Homo sapiens: one gene and its partners. The protein of the gene in region 1 purifies or fractionates together with the protein of each later gene. This does not show direct contact. Each region holds a gene or a part of one and is shown in the gene's direction. Other genes may lie near its edges.

Region 1 (3,500 bases):
GGCTATAAGCCATTTTTTGGTGCTCACTGGTTTCTGAACACTGAGGATAGAAATAGCCACTTTCATACTTTGGGAGGCCGAGGCGGGTGGATCAGTTGAGGTCAGGAGTTCAAGAGTAGCCTGGCCAACATGGTAAAACCCCATCTCTACTAAAAATACAAAAAAATTAGCTGGGCATGGTGGCAGGTGCCTGTAATCCCAGCTACTCAGGAGGCTGAGGCAGGAGAATCACTTGAATGGGGAGGCGGAGGTTGCAGTGAGCCAAGATTGCACAATTGCACTCCAGCATGGGCAACAGAGTGAGACCCAGTCTCAAAAAAAAAAAAAAGAGAGAAATAGCACTTTCTCTTTGCCCCAGTGTTACAGGCGCAGCAGAGCCACCTGTGTCTGTGGTGCTGACAGGTCCAGGACAGCATCTGCAGGGCAGCCTCTGATTTTCTTTGATTTTTTATTTAGATTTTTCTTTTTGAGACAGGGTCTCGTTCTCTTGCCCAGGCTGGAGTGCAGTGGCGTAATCTCATCTCACTGCAATCTCTGCCTCCAGGTTCTGGTGATTCTCGTGCCTCAGCCTCCCAAGTAGCTGGGATTACAGGCGCGTGCTACTACGCCCGGCTTTTTTTTTTTTTTTTTTTTTTTTTTGTACTTTTCGTAGAGACGGACGGGGTTTCACCATGTTGTCCAGGCTGGTCTCGAACTCCTGACTTCAAGTGATCCGCCTGCCTCAGCCTCCCAGAGTGCTGGGATTACAGGCGTGAGTCACCATGCCCGGCCTGATTTTCTTTGATTCTTCTTTGTTCCCTCCCCAAAACCCTCTCACCTGTTTTCACCTGTAGGTGACAGTTTCCTCAACATACACACACCCCTGCCTGTGTGGGGTTTTGTTGCCTCCCCCGTGCCAGGAGCCACAACTCCATAACTCTGCCTCCTGTGTATAACCCTGCCTCCTCCACCCTGTCTCCTCAGGAGCGGAACGCAGAGAACGCCATCGAGGCCCTGAAGGAGTATGAGCCAGAGATGGGGAAGGTCTACCGGGCTGACCGCAAGTCAGTGCAAAGGATCAAGGCTCGGGACATCGTCCCTGGGGACATCGTGGAGGTGGCTGGTGAGTGACAGGGACGGCTGGTCCAGGATGGGAGGCCTTGGGGCTGAGGCCTAGGAGATGCCGGGGGCTGGTCAGGCTCGGATCCAGGTGTCCAGGAGGATGACGGAGTCTGCTTCTCTTTCCGACTCCTCAGAAGGTCATCCCAGGCCACTCCGGCCACATCCCCCCCTCCCCAGCGGAGTCTCAGCAGGAACAGCCAGTCCTGTCCCTGAGGCTGCAGGCAGACCCCCTGCTCCCCATCCTCTCACCCTGCACTTGCACTCGCAGGCAACAGGTGGAACCCGGTCCCTGCCAATGGCCCCGTCTCCACCCCCTCCCGGGCCTGGCTTCCCCCTCCTTCCACCCACCCCAAGCTTGGTCAGCTTTCAGTCTTGACCTCTCTGTGCCCTTGAGGCCTCTCAAAGGGGAAGGAGCGAGGGCAGAAGGGAGGAGGGAGGCCGAAGGCTCGAGCCCCCGACCATGTAAGGGAAACTCAGGCCTGGCACAGAGCACGCGACCGGGGAGGAGGGAGCTCAAGGAGGGCCCCGCCCGCGGCAAGGGACACTTAATGCCTGGCCAGGGAGGGGTGGGGGCCGGGTGGCTAAGATTACTGGGATTCTGCCCCCTTCAGCGGTTTTTATGTTTGCCCTGAGCAGGCCTTCCCGAAGCTCCAGGCCCCTGCCAGGGGGAATGGCTCTTCAGAGGCCTCCTTCCCTGTAGCAGACATCCGAATCACCACCCCAGGGAGCTTGGGCAGAGGGAGTGAGGGCAGGCTGAAGACCCCAGCGCCCCATCACAGGGCAGCCTTGCCGCCGTGACAGCATGGAGTCAGCGCCATGAATGTCTATAAATATCACGCGGGCTTGGGTGACAGGGTGTCCCGCCCGACTCTATCCCGACCTCCCTCCTCCCTCCTCGGTCCATTTCCTCTGGCACAGGAGGGATCCTTAGAAACAGAGGGAAAGGAAAGCGATTGGACCCTGTCCCCAGTACCATCCGTGGGACCAGTGCGGAATTAGGCAGCGGCCCTGGGAGATTCTTAGCCTCCTCCTAAGGTCTCTGAGTCTGGCTGGGCATCCACCTCTCCAGCCCCCCGACAAGGTGGTTTCCATGGCCTGCCAGCCCACCTGTGCGTCTCCCTGGCCTCACCTCCACCCATTCACTCTCCAGCCTGTGCTGCCCGCCCCACTCTTCCACACCTGTTTCCTGCCCAACCCCCGCTTCTCTCCTGTCCCATCCCATCCTGTCTTGTCCATGTCCCCAGCTCACTCTCCCTGGCTCCCCGCCTCCCTGCCTCCCTGAGATGCTCAGACCGGGCTGTCAGGTTCCCGATATGTGGTCCTCTCCATGACCACCCTGTGCCCCCCGCTGCCTTGAGTCCTGCCCACTCATACCTTCCGCTCACTCCTCTCCTGCCTTGCCCTCCACTGTTCCTCTTGGTTGCCCTCGATTTTCTCAATTTCCATATTTTCCCGTTTCTCCTTGCCTTCCCTGGCTGTCCACTTCATTCTCTCACCCCGACACCCCTTCTCTCTAATGCACCCTGTTTTCCCTGAGTTCTTTCCTTGCCTTTCCTCCTTGCCTTTCTCACTCCTGTCTCCCAATCTCAATTATAGCTTCTTGTCCTACAGCTGGACTGTCCCTAATTTCCCCTCCAGTCATTCAGTGGGCATTTATTGAGCATGTACTATGTGCTGAGCAGTACACCTGCCCATCCCTTCTCAGGGCTCACAGCCAGTGGGAAGAGATGTGGGAGTTCAAGACCAGCCTGAGCAACAGAGCGAGACTCCATCTCGCCGTGGACACGGGGGCAGAAGGGATGGGTGTCACGATGAGGGGTTGCCAGCTTCAGGAGCTCAAGCCAAGGGCCTGATGCAAGCCCTGGGAGCCTCCCTGAGACCTGAAGGATGGATGAGGAGAACGAGTCAGACACAGATTGGGTTTTTCTTTGGAAGGAAGAAAATTCCATTCCCAAGTGACCTCCCTCTTCCCTACTCTCTCCACAGTGGGGGACAAAGTCCCTGCAGACATCCGAATCCTCGCCATCAAATCCACCACGCTGCGGGTTGACCAGTCCATCCTGACAGGTCTGCTGGCCTGGGTGGGAAGATGCATGGGGGTGGGACGTGGGGAGGAAGAGGCAACAAGGGGGAGGTGAGTGGAAAGACAGAGAACCCTCACTGTCTGAGCAACATAAAGAGACCCTGTCTCTACAAAAAAATTTTAAAAACTAGCTGAGCATGTTGTTGAGTGCCTGTAGTCCTGACTACTCAGGATGCTGAGGCAGGAGGATCGCCTGGGTACAGGAGGTCAAGGCAGCAGTGAGCTGTGATCACACCACTGCACTCCATCCTGGGCCACCCTGTCTCTGTCAAAATAAAAACAAAAGGCTGTGCGAGGTGGCTCATGCCTGTAATCC
Region 2 (3,500 bases), on another chromosome or scaffold:
TGAAAATACCTATAGAAGAGACCTCTGGTTTAGGTCTCCCTTGCCAGCTCTTTTTTTTTTTTACTTAGCATCTCTCCCATAGGAATTTTGGTCTCATAAGACTCTTCCTTTTCTTCTCCTGTATTCCCTTCCTAAGGAGTGCTGTCTGTGCTTCTGGTTTGAATTGCTGATCTGTAAGCTGTGTTGCCTCCCAGATCTGTATCTCCATTCAGGTTTGTCCTCACAACTTAAGGCCTCTCCATGTGTCTTCTTGACGTTTTTATGTGGCTGTCTTGAAGGCATCTCAAATCTTTTTTTTTTTTTTGAGACAAAATCTTGCTTTGTCACGCAAGCTGGAATGCAGTGGTGTGATCTTGGCTCACTGCAACCTCTGCCTCCCGGGGTTCAAGTGATTCTCCTGCCTCACCCTCCTAGATAGCTGAGACTACAGGCATGCACCACCATCCCTAGCGAATTTTTGTATTTTTAGTAGAGGCAGGGTTTCACTATGTTAGCCAGGCTGGTCTTGAACCCAAGTGAGCCACCATGCCTGGCCAGGCATCTTATATCTTAACATGTGTAAAATACTACTTGTCATCTTCCACTCCCCAAAAGCTCTTCTTCTTTGAGTGTTCCCTTTCGTGGGGCCTGGAATCACTATTTTTTTACTTGAGCAAACCGTAAATGTATCAGTTGCCTCCTTCCTACTCCATATCCAATTAATGACCAAGTCCCATAAATCCATAGATTGTACTTTCTTCATTAGGGCATCAGTGCCTGCTGCTCTATCTGGAATGCTCTTCTTCCTCCCACATCACCTTCATACAGGGATTCCTAATCTTTTTATGCCATGGGCCCCTTTCATAAACTCATGAATAAGTTTTCACATATATAAAATACATAAGATTTCAAAGGAAGTCACTTATATTGAAATATAATTTAAAAATATTAAAAAAGTAAATTTCTGATTGAGTTATATGTGTAGTAGTTCCCCCATTATCTGAGGTTTCGCTTTCTGCGGTTTCAGTACTGCTATATGCTACGCTAAACAGTAAGATACTGTGTGAGGAGAGAGAACTACATTCACATAACTTTTATTAGATTATGTTGTTATAATTGTTCTATTTTTATTTCTTATTCTCTTACTGTGCATTATTTATAAATTAAGCATTATCATAGGTATGTACTTATAGGAAAAAATATAGCATATATAAGGTTTGGTATTAACCACAATTTGAGGCATCTGCTGGGGGTCTTGGAATGTATCCCCTGCAGATAAGGGAGGACTACTATACTTTATGAATTTATTAATGGTAAGATCTAGTGGCAGGTCTAATAACTACTTTCAAAGCAGTGGTGAGCATAAACAATATGTTAAGATAACTGCAGCAAGTATAGTACAAAATGAAAAATGTCTGTGGTTTCTATTGTGTCAGGGTGTTTTTAATTTTACCTATGTTCATAGTTTGTTGTCTACATTCATAATTTAATGATATGCTAACTACTTTCAAAGCAGTGGTGAGCATAAATAGTATTTTGAGGCCGTGCGTGGTGGCTTACACCTGTAATCCCAGCACTTTGGGAGGCCAAGGCGGGTGAATCACTGAGGTTGGGAGTTCGAGACCAACCTGACCGACATGGAGAAACCCCATCTCTACTAAAAATACAAAATTAGCTGGGCATGATGGCGCATGCCTGTAATCCCTGCTACTTGGGAGGCTGAGGCAGGAGAATCGTTTGAACCCGGGAGGCAGAGGTTGTGGTGAGCTGAGATCGCCCCGTTGCATGCCAGCCTGGGCAACAAGAGCGAAACTCTGTCTCAAAAACAAAAAACAAAACCAAACAAAAAACAAAACTACAATATTTTGAGGTAACTGCAGCAAATATAGTACAAAATAAAAAAATGCCTGTGATTTCTATTGTGTCAGGGTGTTTTTAATTTTACCTACATTCATAGTTTGTTGTCTACATTCATAATTTAAAGATATGCTAAATTTTAGCCAGAGGTTAATGAAAATGAAGGTAACATTTTTTTTTACCCATCGAGGTTCACAGAACCACTGAATCTATTAGTGGACACCATTAATTAAACATCCATGGTACTGTTGATTCTTATTTATCTTTTATATTTCATTCCAAATGTTGACTCCTCAGAGAGTCATTTTCTGATACCCAGACTAGATCAAATTTCCCTGTTATACTCTTCAAGCATCCCACACTTTTCCCTTGCAGGACTTAACTCAGTTGGTAATGGTACATTTGTGCATTGGTTGTCTGCCTCTCTTCACCTCTTTCCCTGAGGAAGGAGTTGGTATCTGTTAGTCACTGTTGTATTACCAGCACATAGTAGATGCTCAGTAAATATTTGTTGAGTAAATAAAGATTAGGAAAGCTATCAAACTAATTTGTTACCTTAGTAAGTAGGAAAAGAGCTTGGTACACTTGAGAGACTGACTGAAGGCCAGTGTCTATAATCATTTTCAGGGATATGTAGTTGTAAAATATATGTAGCTATAGTCAGGATGTAAAGTAGGTCACAGTAACCAAATAGCAAGGGGTTTAGGGAAAATTAGGGAACTGGAGAAAGGGCAAATTGTTCATGAGGGAAAAGAGAAGGTGTAATGTTTATGGGTGGACTTGTTGCTTGCTCTGTCACCTCTACCCCTATTAGTCCTGCCATTACCATTTTACTTAATCGTTTAGCCAGGCCTGATACATAGTAGTCTTTGCTAACTGGATATTATGGAGGTAAAGCTGAAGGTTTTTGTTTGTGAAATGTTACACTAAGATAGGAGCTTGTGACAGATCTTTAAATAATGCTTTTAAAATGTGCCTGTTTATATTAATCTTCACCAGAATGTCACAGGTAGACTAATGGTTGGCCTACGTTGGTGGAATCACATTGATGAAGATGGAAAGAGCCATTGGGTGTTTGAATCTAGAAAGGTAAAGTGCCTTTTTTGTTTTAAATAATGTTATCAGCTAAATTATTTGTAGACTATATTTAAATACTGGAAGATGAAGTATTCAGAATTAAAAACACTATACCAAATCACTTGGCATGTCAGCACTAAAGGAGATGGCCTTCTAGAATTTAATGCATTTTTCTGTCTAGTTCAGACCAGAAACAAGCAATATACGAACAGAATCCTTTGAGGGAAGACACTGGGTCTGAGTTCATACAGTGTGCTAAGCTGCCTGTCAGGGATTGCTGATAAAAGATCTCTGTGTTGCCTTTGTTAGTGTCTCCATAAATCCCTCTATGCTCAGCAGATAACTGCTTTTAACATCTTGTTCTGTCTTTGCTCCTGTGGTCGTCTTTCATTTCTGGGCAGGAAAAAGGAGGAGGAGTGCAGCTGGATAGAATATCTGATTGGAGCACTCTATTCCTAAGCTTCTGCCTTCAGGAGCCCTGGGGATCCTGGTCTGTTTTGGGTTAGCCTGCTACACTATAGTGAATATTCACTTTCCTTGTGGAAATAAGTTTTGGAAGCAGAGGACCAAATTCTTGGCGACAGTAC
Region 3 (3,500 bases), on another chromosome or scaffold:
TCCATGCTCATGGGTAGGAAGAATCAATATCGTGAAAATGGCCATACTGCCCAAGGTAATTTATAGATTCAATGCCATCCCCATCAAGCTACCAAAGACTTTCTTCACAGAATTGGAAAAAACTACTTTAAAGTTCATATGGAACCAAAAAAGAGCCCGCATTGCCAAGTCAATCCTAAACCAAAAGAACAAAACTGGAGGCATCAGGCTACCTGACTTCAAACTATACTACAAGGCTACAGTAACCAAAACAGCATGGTACTGGCACCAAAACAGAGATAGAGACCAATGGAACAGAACAGAGCCCTCAGAAACAATGCTGCATATCTACAACTATCTGATCTTTGACAAACCTGACAAAAACAAGAAATGGGGAAAGGATTCCCTATTTAATAAATGGTGCTGGGAAAACTGGCTAGCCATATGGAGAAAGCTGAAACTGGATCCCTTCCTTACACCTTATACAAAAATCAATTCAAGATGGATTAAAGACTTACACGTTAGACCTAAAACCATAAAAACCCTAGAAGAAAACCTAGGCAATACCATTCAGGACACAGGCATGGGGAAGGACTTCATGTCTAAAACACCAAAAGCAATGGCAACAAAAGCCAAAATTGACAAATGGGATCTAATTAAACTAAAGAGCTTCTGCACAGCAAAAGAAACCACCATCAGAGTAAACAGGCAACCTACAGAATGGGAGAAAATTTTTGCAACCTACTCATCTGACAAAGGGCTAATATCCAGAATCTACAATGAACTCAAACAAATTTACAAGAAAAAAACAAACAACCCCATCAAAAAGTGGGCTAAGGATATGAACAGACACTTCTCAAAAGAAGACATTTATGCAGCCAAAAAACACATGAAAAAATGCTCATCATCACTGGCCATCAGAGAAATGCAAATCAAAACCACAATGAGATACCATCTCACACCAGTTAGAATGGCAATCATTAAAAAGTCAGGAAACAACAGATGCTGGAGAGGATGTGGAGAAATAGGAACACTTTTACACTGTTGGTGGGACTGTAAACTAGTTCAACCATTGTGGAAGTTGGTGTGGCGATTCCTCAGGGATCTAGAGCTAGAAATACCATTTGACCCAGCCATCCCATTACTGGGTATATACCCAAAGGATTATAAATCATGCTGCTATAAAGACATATGTTTATTGTGGCACTAGTCACAATGGCAAAGACTTGGAACCAACCCAAATGTCCAACAATGATGGACTGGATAAAGAAAATGTGGCACATATACACCATGGAATACTATGCAACCATAAAAAATGAGTTCATGTCCTTTGTAGGGACATGGATGAAGCTGGAAACCATCATTCTCAGCAAACTATCGCAAGGACAAAAAACCAAACACCGCATGTTCTCACTCATAGGTGGGAATTGAACAATGAGAACACATGGACACAGGAAGGGGAACATCACACACCGGGGCCTGTTGTGGAGTGGGGGGAGGGGGGAGGGATAGCATTAGGAGATATACGTAATGCTAAATGACGAGTTAATGCGTGCAGCACACCAACATGGCACATGTATACATATGTAACAAGCCTGCACGTTATGCACACGTATCCTAAAACTTAAAATATAATAATAATTAAAAAAAAGAAAAAAAAACAATATATCAGATGGCTAACTGACCTTGCTTGCCAGCTAAGGGTTTCACTTCTACATACCAAACTTACTGAGTGTGATTCAAATCCAAGCCCTAGAATTATTTCCTAAGCATTATCCATGTCAAATACAATAAATATTATATTAGGCACAAAAGGCAAGATTTAGAGGGATATTTTATCTGAAATCATTGCTCCCTCTCAAAGTGACATGAAATAGTTATTCAGAAATGTTTACATATCACATATAGACAAAATTCTTCAAACTAGTGTTTGAAATGATGATTAAGCCAGTTTATAAATCAAAAACAAATCAACAAATTCAAGCTATTGTAAGTTCTTTTAAAATTTAGCTTTAAACTCTATGTAGGCTTATCCTTATGTATTTTCTCCATGGAATTTTCCTGCCGAAATAACTCAAAAGGTAATGAGCTTGGTTTCATTTCTGACATTTTACTATTTTAACCTTTCAAAATTTTATGAAAAAGAATCAAAGCTTCAGTGGATTTAACATATGCTCTCAAAAATATCTTAGCAAAAGTAATAGTACTAAATGTAATTACCAAATTCTGGTGTGGCTCAAAATTCAGTTTGAATTGCCATATGGAATCAGGATTCTGAACAGGGCCACTTTGAAATCAAACTTAGAAATGTTAAACACTATAAAAATAAAAGCCTCTGCTTATATGAATGACTAAGCAATATTAATGATACTATGAAAACCATATCCAATCAAAGTGATAATGGAATTTCTTTCAAAAAGCAATTCAGCTTTTGGACAAGTCTTTGAAGCTCTCTGGAACAATCGCATCTGCTCTCTTTATTAATACTCCAAATCTCACAAAGGTTTGAGGTATCTTGCAAAAAAATACATATAATGAAAGAACAAAATAGAAATAAAATAAAATGCAAAACCAAGGAAAATATGAATCAGAATATGAAGTCACAGCTAAAAATTTAAAAAGAGAATGCCCATACATAATCTACAAGATCCTACTAAGTTGCTGTAGTTAATTTAAGCAGTGAATTTGTTCTTGAGCTTTCTGGTAGTAAAGTGAAAAGGAAAATATAGTTTCATAGGACTCGTTGTTCAAAAGGAAGAATGAATTAGAAAAAGTTATCTAAAGCAAATACATTTATGACTTTTTTTTTTTTTTTTTTGAGACCATGTCTTGCTCTGTTGCCCAGGCTGGAGTGCAGTGGCAAGATCTTGGCTCACTGCAACCTCCGCCTCCCGGGTTCAAGCGCGTCTCCTGTCTCAACCTCCCAAGTAGCTGCGACTACAGGCGCATGCCACGACGCCTGGCTAATTTTTGTATTTTTAGTACAGACGGGGTATCACGATATTGGTCAGGCGGGTCTTGAACTCCTGACCTCAGGTGATCTGCCCGCCTCGACCTCCCAAAGTGTTGAGATTACAGGCATGAGCCACCACGCCTGGCCCATTTATGATTTTTAAAAAGTTATTTCTTGTCATGTTTCTCCATGCAAGTTGAGAGGATAAAGCAAAAGCAATATGCACAATGAATCAGCAAAGGGCTCATTATTAAATGTTTACTGAATGCCTAGAATGTTAAATAGGGATAATAATATTTAGTTACTTTCCTCCGAGTTCTAAGATGGTTTTCTGTGATTAAAATATAACATTTAATTTGCATATAAAGGAGAAAGAATCGAGTAGCCTTAGAGAACTACTAAATCTTTAAGATGTCAAATTCAATTACATTCTTTAGAAGTGTAATATTTCCTGAAGAGAAAAAGAGCTAAATATAGACTCTGGAGGAAAGATGCAATTTATGAATTAAACCCAAGAGATTCTCAGAAAATCGTGTAGCCATTTTAAAGTTAACAAACTTGACCTTTA
Region 4 (4,283 bases), on another chromosome or scaffold:
AAACTGTCTTTATTTGCAGATGACGTAATTGTCCATGTAGAAAATCCAAAGGAATTGACAAAAAAGCTCCTGGAACTAGTAAGTGATTAACGGACGATTGCAGGATACAAGATTAATACATAAAATCAATTACTTTCCTATATGCCAGCAATGAACAAGTGGAATTTGAAATAAAAAACACAATGCCATTTCCATTAATATTCAAAAAAGAAATATTTCTGTATAAATCTAACAAAACATATACAAGATCTATATGAGGAAACCCATGAAACTATGATGAAGGAAATCAAAGAACTGAACAAATAGAGAGATATCCCATGTCCATGAATAGGAAGATTCAATACTGTCAGGATGTCAGTTCTTCCCTCCTTTATTGATAGATTTGATGAAGTCTCGTCAAAATCCCAGCGAGTTATTTTGTGGCTATTAACAAACTGATTCTAACATTTATATAGACAGACAACTCAAAAGAGCCAAGACAAAATTGAAAGAGAAGAACAGAATTGAAGGACTGGCAGTACCCAACTTCAAGACTTACTACAGAGCTGCAGCAATCAAGACAGTAAGGTATTGGTGAAAAAATAGACAAATAGATCAATGATACAAAGTAGAGAGCCCAGAAATAAACCCACATGAATACAGTCAACCAATCTTTGACAAAGGAGTAAAGAGAAAACACTGAAGGAAAAAAAACATGGTCATTTCGGAAAATGGTGCTGAGACAACTGAACACCTATAAGCCAAAAAAAAAAAAAATCTAGACACAAACCTTACACATGTCAGAAAAATTAAAATGTACGTATAGAACTATAAAACTCCTAGGAGATAACGCAGGTGACTTGAACACACTGGTGGACTATGAAATGCTGGGCTACGTGAAGGGTTAGCACCTTCACATTCCAGGGCAGCCAGAGCCCGCAGTGCTGGACAAGCGACCATCTTCACCCCTTCCAAACTGCATGCAAATAGGCAGAGCTCGGGCGATGGGGAGTGGGCATGAGAGACCACCTTCTCACTGTTCTGCAGGAGAGATCATGTTCTATGAGTGGCCATTTACTGCCCTCTCCATCCTCCCCGTCCCCAGGCCCTGCCCTCTCCTGAGACCCTCAGGGAAGTGCCATGTTGCCTACAGTTTCCTTGGCCAACCTCTATCCAGCCAGAACGCTCTCCTCATTCTCCCACACTCAGGGGACTCTCCTGTCCCGTAGCCATCTGTCCCAAAAAGCTCTTCTTTTCTAACATGCCTGGGCTGCTTTGACCCCATCCTACTGGCAGGTGGAGAGGAACTTTGCAGATACCCTGGGTGCAGGTCCTAAGGTCCCTGGGGGTGGGGTAGGAGAGGCTGGCAGAACTGAAACCCAGGAAGGCAGGCCATCTGTCTCAGAAGGGGCCCCACGCTGGGGTTTCTCAAACTCTCAGCAGTGGAATTGCACTTCTGCAATGAAAAATTACACTTCTATTTTCTTTCCTAAAGGGAAAAAGGAAGAATGCAACAAAACTGAAGTATGTTCTGCCACGTTCCTGAACTGCAGCCATAGGAGCCCTCCCAGCCCTACCCAAACCAGCCTACTCCCTCTCAAGAGCTCACAGCTGCAGGACTAGAGCCAGATGTGCCCCGGCAATAAGGTAAGTTGAAGCCAGAGGGGCTTGAACCCATGGGGAGAAGGGAGGGCCTGGTGGGGCTGGGAGGAGGGCTCCCCTGAGACACACATTCTGGAGTGTCTTCCTCCTGCCCCGTCCCAAAGGCTGGATTTGTAGGGCTGGGTTTCTGTTTCCCCAGAACACCTGGGATCCAAAAGACACGGGACAGCCTGTCGTGGATGGGCTCCTCTTTAGTGGGAGATTTCTGTTAGCTCTGGTTGGAGCAGAGAGTAAGGCCACACAGCAACTGTGAATCTTTCTTCCTGAGGGATTCTTTCAGGGTCTCTGTGCCGTGATATTAGTTTCTGGGAGTGAACTCTTGAGTTTCCAGCCAGGCCTGACAGCATGGGTTGCCCAGCCCACCTGTCCTGGGCTCAGCCTGTAACGCATACCTCGAGAAAAGGCTTTCTGGCTGGGCGTGGTGGCTTACGCCTGTAATCCCAGCACTTTGGAAGGTCGGGGCGGGCGGATCACCTAAAGTCAGGAGTTCGAGACCAGCCTGGCCAACATGGCGAAACCCCGTCTCTACTGAAAATACAAAAATTAGCTGGGCATGGTGGCGGGCACCTGTAATCCCAGCTACTGGGGAGGCTGAGGCAGGAGAATCCCTTGAACCTGGAAGACGGAGGCTACCATGAGCCAAGATCATGCCGCTATACTCCAGCCTGGGTGACAGTGTGAGACTCCATCTCAGAAAAAAAAAAAAAAGAAAAAAAAGAAAGGCTTTCGGCAGACTATGGCCAGATGGGGTGTGGGTAGAGGCATATGTGTGTCTGTGCCTTAGGGGAAAGGGGGTGCCCTCAGGCCTCTGATAGTGAAAGGGTGCCCTCACTATCAGACTAAAAGGTCTCAGCCATTAACCTACTGCATCTAAAAGGCAGGAGGGGCAGCAGGTTCAAGACCTGGAGGGACATTGAGTTCAAGCCACCTGCAACAGGCTCGCTGTCCCACAGCCTTTGAGACATGATCCCATTTGTGGTCTCTCTGGGTGATTTCACCATGTGTGTGTGTGGGCTTCTCATTTAGCCACTCGGCAAATGTGCCCCTGGACATTTATGGTGGCCAGGCCCTATTTGTATGGGGCAGTGGAACATGGGGCAGCAAGAACCACAGCCCAGACCATACCCAGCCCTTGGGAGGCCTCAGGGGCAGGAAGAGAGGAACTCAGGGAAGACAGGACAAGGGCCCACAGAACTTGGGCATGAAATGCAAAGATGGAATGAATGGAGAGTAAGGTTGGCCAGGTGTCCTGGGGGATTCCCCCTGTTGTGGGAGTCAGAAGGCAGCGAAAGGTCACCTTCCCCAGGGAAGGGAGCTTCACAGGAGAGGTAACACTTGAACAGGGCCTTGAACCGTGGGCAGTATTTGGACACAGAGTTTGGGATGGAAGATGCATTCTTAGGAGAGAAATAATGTGAGCAAAAGCCTGGTACCCAGAGAATGTATAATTAGTTATTCAAATCCACTCAACCCTTGGTTCCTGTTGAAGATGATGGCAGGTCCTGGGCCACAGGGTGCTGGTGGACATAGCAGAGTTTGTGTTCCTCAAACCCATGCAGGAACAAAGCTGGCCATTGTGAGTGGCCTTCCAGCAAGTGCCCATAGTAACCACTCGGAATGTGCTAGCTGTTTACTCTTCACCAGGGTTTCTAGGCAGCCTTTCTGGTGGCCAGGACTAGGCTAAGCATCCTCCTTCTGTGTCCTTCCACACATCCTGATGCTAGAAACACCTCTCTCCTCCACCAGTGGGTGCTCCCAAGAGTCAGGGCTCGGTTCGTTGTTGAATCTGCTTCTCCCCAGCAGCTGGTTCCCTGCTTGGCTCAAAGGAGGATTCAGCAAGGGTTTGTTGTGTGACTGTCAGATACAAGGAAAATGTAGCCAGTCTGTCTACCCTTTCCTTTCCAAGAAGCAGGGCCAAGTTGTCTCCAAATAACCAAAAGATTACCAAATCCCCACCCTGCAAGCCAGCATGCCTTATCCCTTGCATAGACAAGGACAGATATATCTATACTACAGAAATCCAAAAGTCAGACAGAGTGGGTGGCATGTTCTATTCAGAGTATGAGAGAGACTAAGCTCATGACCTTCCACACCAATTCCAGCCTTGGCTCCATCCTGGCTTGGGCAGAGTGATTGTATGAACAGGCACAGGGCCCCTGAGGTGGGCAAGTGTGTCTGGGCTCAGGGAGCCACAGAGGTCTCTGACTGAAGCTGAGCCTGTGTGTCCATGTTCCAACTTCCCAGGACTTCTTCCATGGAGAAGCCCCTCACCGTCCTGCGAGTGAGCCTGTACCATCCCACGCTGGGCCCATCTGCCTTTGCCAATGTCCCACCACGGCTGCAGCATGATACCAGCCCTCTGCTTCTCGGACGGGGGCAGGACGCCCACCTCCAGCTGCAGCTCCCTCGCCTCTCCCGCCGTCACCTGTCCCTGGAGCCCTACCTGGAGAAAGGCAGTGCCCTGCTGGCCTTCTGCCTCAAGGCCCTGAGCCGCAAGGGCTGTGTGTGGGTCAATGGGCTGACGCTGAGGTACCTGGAGCAGGTCCCCCTGAGCACCGTCAACAGGGTCTCCTTCTCAGGCATCCAGATGCTGGTTCGCGTAGAAGAAGGCACATCCCTGGAGGCTTTTGTCTGCTATTTCC

Evidence for each region. The genes of interacting proteins can lie anywhere in the genome.
Region 2: the proteins of ATP2A1 (region 1) and TVP23C purify together in Homo sapiens (affinity purification with mass spectrometry, with the first as the bait; one large-scale study listed by BioGRID). This does not show direct contact.
Region 3: the proteins of ATP2A1 (region 1) and FAR2 purify together in Homo sapiens (affinity purification with mass spectrometry; one large-scale study listed by BioGRID and IntAct). This does not show direct contact.
Region 4: the proteins of ATP2A1 (region 1) and TIFAB purify together in Homo sapiens (tandem affinity purification; one large-scale study listed by IntAct). This does not show direct contact.

What each region holds. Positions count from the first base shown.
Region 1 is NC_000016.10:28,881,488-28,884,987, forward strand, and holds part of ATP2A1 (sarcoplasmic/endoplasmic reticulum calcium ATPase 1), read left to right. Parts: intron 1-963; coding exon 964-1,102; intron 1,103-3,087; coding exon 3,088-3,168; intron 3,169-3,500. UniProt on the Homo sapiens protein: Key regulator of striated muscle performance by acting as the major Ca(2+) ATPase responsible for the reuptake of cytosolic Ca(2+) into the sarcoplasmic reticulum.
Region 2 is NC_000017.11:15,546,484-15,549,983, reverse strand, and holds part of TVP23C (Golgi apparatus membrane protein TVP23 homolog C), read left to right. Parts: intron 1-2,835; coding exon 2,836-2,925; intron 2,926-3,500. Other genes in the region: TVP23C-CDRT4 (uncharacterized protein LOC100533496), read left to right, coding at 2,836-2,925.
Region 3 is NC_000012.12:29,327,278-29,330,777, forward strand, and holds part of FAR2 (fatty acyl-CoA reductase 2), read left to right. Parts: intron 1-3,500. UniProt on the Homo sapiens protein: Catalyzes the reduction of saturated but not unsaturated C16 or C18 fatty acyl-CoA to fatty alcohols (FAls). A lower activity can be observed with shorter fatty acyl-CoA substrates.
Region 4 is NC_000005.10:135,449,552-135,453,834, reverse strand, and holds the start of TIFAB (TRAF-interacting protein with FHA domain-containing protein B), read left to right. Parts: upstream 1-1,483; 5' UTR 1,484-1,626; intron 1,627-3,112; exon of another isoform or gene 3,113-3,335; intron 3,336-3,885; 5' UTR 3,886-3,895; coding exon 3,896-4,283. UniProt on the Homo sapiens protein: Inhibits TIFA-mediated TRAF6 activation possibly by inducing a conformational change in TIFA.